2 separate regions of the Homo sapiens genome follow, and region 1 is linked to region 2. Evidence: fine-mapped expression QTL. A gene starts in region 2. The other region holds a variant in brackets. All regions are shown on one strand. Distances are from middle to middle.

Region 1 (2,913 bases), 70 kb after region 2:
TCTGGATATTAGCCCTTTGTCAGATGGATAGATTGCAAAAATTTTTTCCCATTCTGTAGGTTGCCTGTTCACTCTGATCATAGTTTCTTTTGCTGTGCAGAAGCTCTTTAGTTTAATCAGATCCCATTTGTCAATTTTGTCTTTTGTTGCCATTGCTTTTGGTGTTTTAGTCATGAAGTCTTTTTTCATGCCTATGTCCTGAATGATAATGCCTAGGTTTTCTTCTAGGGTTTTTATGATTTTAGGTTTTAGGTTTAAGTCTTTAATACATCTTGAGTTAATTTTTGTATAAGGTGTAAGGAAGGAGTCCAGTTTCAGTTTTCTGCATATGGCTAGCCAGTTTTCCCACTACCATTTATTAAATAGGGAATCCTTTCCCCATTGCTTGTTTTGGTCAGGTTTGTTGAAGATCAGATGGTTGTAGATGTGTGGTGTTATTTCTGAGGCTTCTGTTCTGTTCCATTGGTCTATATATCTGTGTTGGTATCAGTACCATGCTGTTTTAGTTACTGTAGACTTGTAGTATACTTTGAAGTCAGGTAGCGTGATGCTGTACTACAAGTCTACAGAACTTTGTTCTTTTTGCTTAGGATTCTCTTGGCTATGCAGGCTCTTTTTTTGGTTCCACATGAAATTTAAAGTAGTTTTTTCTAGGTCGGTGAAGAAAGTCAATGGTAGCTTAATGGAAATAGCATTGAATCTACAAATTACTTTAGGCAGTATGGCCATTTTCACAATATCGATTCTTCCTATCCATGAGCATGGAATGTTTTTCCATTTGTTTGTGTCCTCTCTTATTTCCTTGAGCAGTGGTTTGTAGTTGTTCTCCCTGAAAAGGTCATTCACATCCCTTGTAACTTGTTTCCTAGGTATTTAATTTTCTTCATAGCAATTGTGAATGGGAGTTCACTCACGATTTGGCTTTCTGCTTGTCTATTATTAGTGTATAGGAATGTTTGTAATTTTTGTACATTGATTTTGTATCCTGAGATTTTGCTGAAGTTTTTTTATTAGCTTAAGGAGTTTTGGGGCTGAGATGAGGGGTTTTCTAAATATACAATCATTTCATCTGCAGAGACAATTTGACTTCCTCTCTCCCTATGTGAATACCATTTATTTCTTTCTCTTGCCTGATTGCTCTGGTCAGAACTTCCAATACTATGTGAATAGGTATGGCGAGAGAGGGTATCCTTGTCTTGTGCCAGTTTTCAAAGAGAATGCTTCCAGCTTTCGCCCATTCAGTATGATATTGGCTATGGGTTTGTCATAAATAGCTCTCATTATTTTGAGATATGTTCCATTAATACCTAGTTTATTGAGTGTTTCTA[A/G]TATGAAAGGGTGTTGAATTTTATCGAATGCCTTTTCTGCATCTATTGATATAATCATGTGGTTTTTGTCATTGGCTTTGTTTATGTGATGGATTACATGTATTGATTTGTGTATGTTGAACCAGCCTTGCATCCCAGGGATGAAGCCAACTTGATCGTGGTGGATAAGATTTTTGATGTGCTGCTGGATTTGGTTTGGCAGTATCTTATTGAGGATTTTCACAATGATGTTCATCAGGGATATTGGCCTGAAATTTGTGTGTGTGTGTGTGTGTGTCTGTTTCTGCCAGGTTTCAGAATCAGGATGACTCTGACTCATAAAATGAGTTAGGAAGGGGTCCCTCTTTTTCTATTGTTTGGAATAGTTTCAGAAGGAATGGTACCAGCTCCTCTTTGTATCTCTGGTAGAATTTAGCTGTGAATCCTTTTGGTCCTGGGCTTTTTTGGTTGGCAAGCTATTAATTACTGCCTCAATTTCAGAACTTCTTGTTGGTCTATTCAGGGATTCGACTTCTTCCTGGTTTAGTCTTATCCATTTCTTCTAGATTTTCTATTTTATTTGCATAGAGCTTTTTATAGTATTCTCTGGTGGTAGTTTGTATTTCTGTGGGATCAGTGATGATATCCCCTTTATCATTTTTTATTGTGTCTATTCGATTATTCTCTCTTTTCCTCTTTATTATTCTGGCTACTGTTCTATTTTGTTAATGTCTTCAAAAAAAAAAAAAAAACCAGCTCCTGGATTCATTGATTTTTTTAAGGGTTTTTCGTGTTTCTATCTCCTTCAGCTCTGGTCTGATCTTAGTTATTTCTTGTCTTGTGCCAGCTTTTGAATTTGTTTGCTCTTGTTTCTCTAGTTCTTTTAATTGTGATGTTAGCGTGTTGACTTTAGATCTTTCCCACTTTCCGATGTGTGCATTTAGTGCTATAAATTTCCCTCTGAACGCTGCTTTAGCTATGTCCCAGAGATTATGGTACATTGTGTCTTTGTTCTCATTGGTTTCAGAGAACTTTGTTATTTCTGCCTTAATTTCGTTATTTACCCAGTAGTCATTCAGGAGCAGGTTGTTCAATTTCCATGAACTTGTGCAGTTGGGTGAGTTTCTTAATCCGGAGTTCTAATTAGATTTCAGTGTGGTCCAAGAGACTGTTTGTTATGATTTCCATTCTTTTGCATTTGCTGAGGAGTGTTTTAGTTCTAATTAGGTGGTCAATTTTAGAATAAGTGCTATGTGGTGCTGAGAAGAATGTATATTCTGTAGATTTGGGGTGGGGAGTTCTTTAGATGTCTATTAAGTCCTCTTTGTCCAGAGCTGAGTTTAAGTCTTGGATATTCTTATTAATTTTCTGTCTTGTTGATTTGTTTAATATTGACAGTGGGGTGTTAAAGTCTCCCACTATTATTGTGTGGGAGTCTTAAGTGTCTTTGTAGGTGTCTAAGAACTTGTTTTATGAATCTGGGTGCTCCTGTATTGGGTGCATATACATTTAGGATAATTAGCTCTTCTTGTTGCATTGACCCCTTTACCATTACGTAATGCCCTTCTTTGTCTTTTTTGATCTTTGTTGGTTTAAAGTCTGTTTT
Region 2 (2,913 bases):
AGGTGATCAGGCCCAACCCCTTTAATGCCTGCATGATCTCGTTCCCATTCCTGATATTAATAACTTGTATACTGTATGTTTTGCCCCTTTTCTTGATTTATGTAGATAGAGGCTTATCAATTTTATTAATTATTTCCAAAGAATTCATGTTTGATTTTATTGGTTTTCTCTATTTTTTTTTTCTGTTTCAAGATTTCTTCCCTTTAGTATTTCCTTCATCCTCCTTACTTTAGGTTCAATTTGCTGTTCCTTTTCTAAATTTTTAATGTGGTATCACAAATTATTGTTTTCATTTCTGGATCTTTAATGTAGACATTTTTGTCTACACATTGCTTTATTGTTAAAGCATTAGATGAAACGTGGTGCTCACTGCAAATGTAGTCCCTAACAGAGAACTTTCCTACTGCAGTGATCCCTGTAACCTGAATAAAGATTCCCTAAGTAATGATCCAGTGCTTTAATAGTACTAAAAATAAATACTATATTTTGCATCAATTTCTGTAATTAAATAGAATAATATATACCTTCTAGCCAGGTTTAGGCTTCAGAAACAAAATATAATCCTAGTCTTTTAAGGTATCTCAGTTCAGAATCGCGGAGATGCTTTCTCATGCTGCCTGTTCTTTTGGACTTGCCTTCGTTTGCCTGTCAAACCAAGGGACCAAGTGGTCTTTGTTATTTAAGTCATGTTGCTCTGGAATGTAAATTATCCTTACTGTTGGTGCAAGATGTATTCCATTGCCTTGTTCTGCTTTTTAGTGTAGCCATCCTGTGCTTGTATACCCAGGGCCAATCACATTCTATCCTCAAAGAAATGTATGTCTTTCTCTTACAGTTCTCTTTAGAATTATTAGCAATTTTATAATTACTAAAGTGCTATGTAATTCTAAATAAGGTCTCAGCTGTGGGGTATAATGGTAAATTGAGACCCCTTTTACAATGGAAAAATAACTGGTTATAACGGTGAGCTGGGACCCCATTACAATACTCTCAAAGTTTCCATTTTAGTGGTAAGTAGTGTCAGATGTCAGTGTTTAGAATATTTCAGTGGTTCCAGGACCATCTCAGGAGGTGAATTTTGGGCCCATCCTAGTCAGTCCAGTGAAAGTCATTTACTCTCTTTTGCTTCTAGCAGATGACTCATGGACATACCCTGGAAATAAGGACACACTGTGGACTCAGAGGACATACCTGAGGTACTGGGAGAAAGGGGTATGGGGGCTTAGCTGGGAGGCCTGTTGTGCTGAGCAGGGGTTCAGGGGCTCAAGGGTCTTTCAGAATAACTGATAACTCTCTAGTTTTGGCCCAGAAGTTTCTTCCAGAATGTCACAGCATGACCCATGTTTTTTGTCTCACTGCAGAGCCTTTGCAAGGTTCAGTATGGTAGCCACCAGGCATACCAAGCTGAATATTCCTTCTTTCCTTCTGGGGAAAATGCCTGGTGCAAGTTGTTCTGCCTGACTTTGCCTTTTAGAATTCTGACAATGGAGTAGCTATTTAACTTTAAATAAATTGAAACAAAATAAAATTTAAAATTCAGAACTGCAATCACACTCGTCACATTTCAAGCGCTCAGTAGTCACGTGTGGCTAAGGGTCACCATCTTGGACAGCACAGAACAACCCCATCCCTGCAGAAAGTTCTATTAGAGCTGCTGGATGATCAGGTGGGCAGGTCCCTTGCACAAGTAAATCTGGACAGCTCCTCCCCTCACTTCCTCTCTTCTCCTGTTTCTCAACATCCTGGCTTAGTATTGTGTGCAAAATCAGAGAGGGGTGCAAGATCCTGATTTTTCAGGTAAGGGAATAGGGGTGTGTGTGGTGGGGGTCGGGACGAATGTGCGATTTTGGTGAGGAGGGACCTGTATCTTAAATCGTCTGGTAAACATGTTTTCAGACTATATTCTCGCTGGTTCCCGTTTCCTGGCTTTGCTAATTTTAGGCTGTGATCTGTTTTCAAGGCTGAGCCCTACAAATCAATGCCTCTTCCAGAGATTGCTGCTCAGAGGATACTTGTTTTACAAATAAATGTTTCCTCTCGCTGGTTGTGGAATTTATATAGAAACTTTGATTCTTCCAGGGATAAAGTTGGGTGAGCGGACAGAATTAGCTCTGGGGGAGCTGGTGGGAAGAGGAACATTGGGATGTGTAAGGGGCACAGCTCCATATGTGGCCCCACAAAGACTGCACCCAGGTCAGGATTGGAGGCTCTGCAGTCTGAGGTCTTGTTACAGGGTTAACTGTCTGCTCGGAGCTGCCCGTTAGGGAAACTGTCTCCTCAGGGACAGTCCTGGGTTTACTGGGCATTGAGCTCCCCTTTAGCGGGTAGGAGGAGGGAGATGCCACCTGGTGTGACTCTCTACAGTTCAGGAGAAGCTGGATGCTGATGGGTGCTTGTTCCTTAGGCAGAGAGAGGAGAATTCAGCCACCTGAAGTCAGCACCTACAGAAGCACAGTCTCCTGGCTTTGCCTCTGAATTATTAACAGCAGAGCAGCATTAAAGAGCCCACACACTAGAAGGAGGATATGAAGAAACACCCAGAGAATGTCACAAAAACCCAGAATGTCACAGTATTGTTTTCTTCTTGCTGGTGTCCTATCCTCTCTCCTAACACCAGCCACCAAAGCTGATTTTTAAAAAATGCCATGATTTCTCTTGTTTACAAGAAGCTGTTTCCTATACCCTATTCTTGAAGGATAAAGAAATAGTCATTCAAAAGAAATATCTGGCTTTTCACAGTGTTTCATATTTGTTGGCTTCCTATGAGGTGACTCTGTCTTTAACAACTACCATTTTCTGCCTGTTTTGTTCAAAGTCTGCTCCAATAAGAGTTCTTCAAATATCTTTCTCCATTGCAAAATGTTTGTAGGTAGCAATGAAATAAAACATTTAAAATTAATACCATGTTTCTAT

Which allele goes with the higher level. Positions count from the first base shown, and alleles are read on the strand shown. Sizes are in standard deviations (SD) of each study's normalised expression.
For the expression in non-classical monocytes of the gene that starts at base 1,750 in region 2, A is the low allele of the variant in region 1 and G is the other (moderate effect, 0.40 SD a copy in Schmiedel 2018).

Evidence for each region. PIP is the estimated chance that this variant, and not a neighbour inherited with it, causes the effect. A credible set is the group of variants that fine-mapping cannot tell apart.
Region 1: its variant is the best candidate, but not a certain one, in a credible set for the expression of GIMAP4 in non-classical monocytes (Schmiedel 2018, PIP 0.52).

What each region holds. Positions count from the first base shown.
Region 1 is chr7:150,635,532-150,638,444 of GRCh38, forward strand. No RefSeq gene overlaps it. Among named protein-coding and RNA genes, the nearest start is that of GIMAP6, 4.6 kb to the left of the region's middle. The variant A/G (reference allele first, on the strand shown) is at 1,329.
Region 2 is chr7:150,565,641-150,568,553 of GRCh38, forward strand. It overlaps GIMAP4 (GTPase, IMAP family member 4), which reads left to right and starts at 1,750. Exons shown (of 3, transcript NM_018326.3): 1 at 1,750-1,797.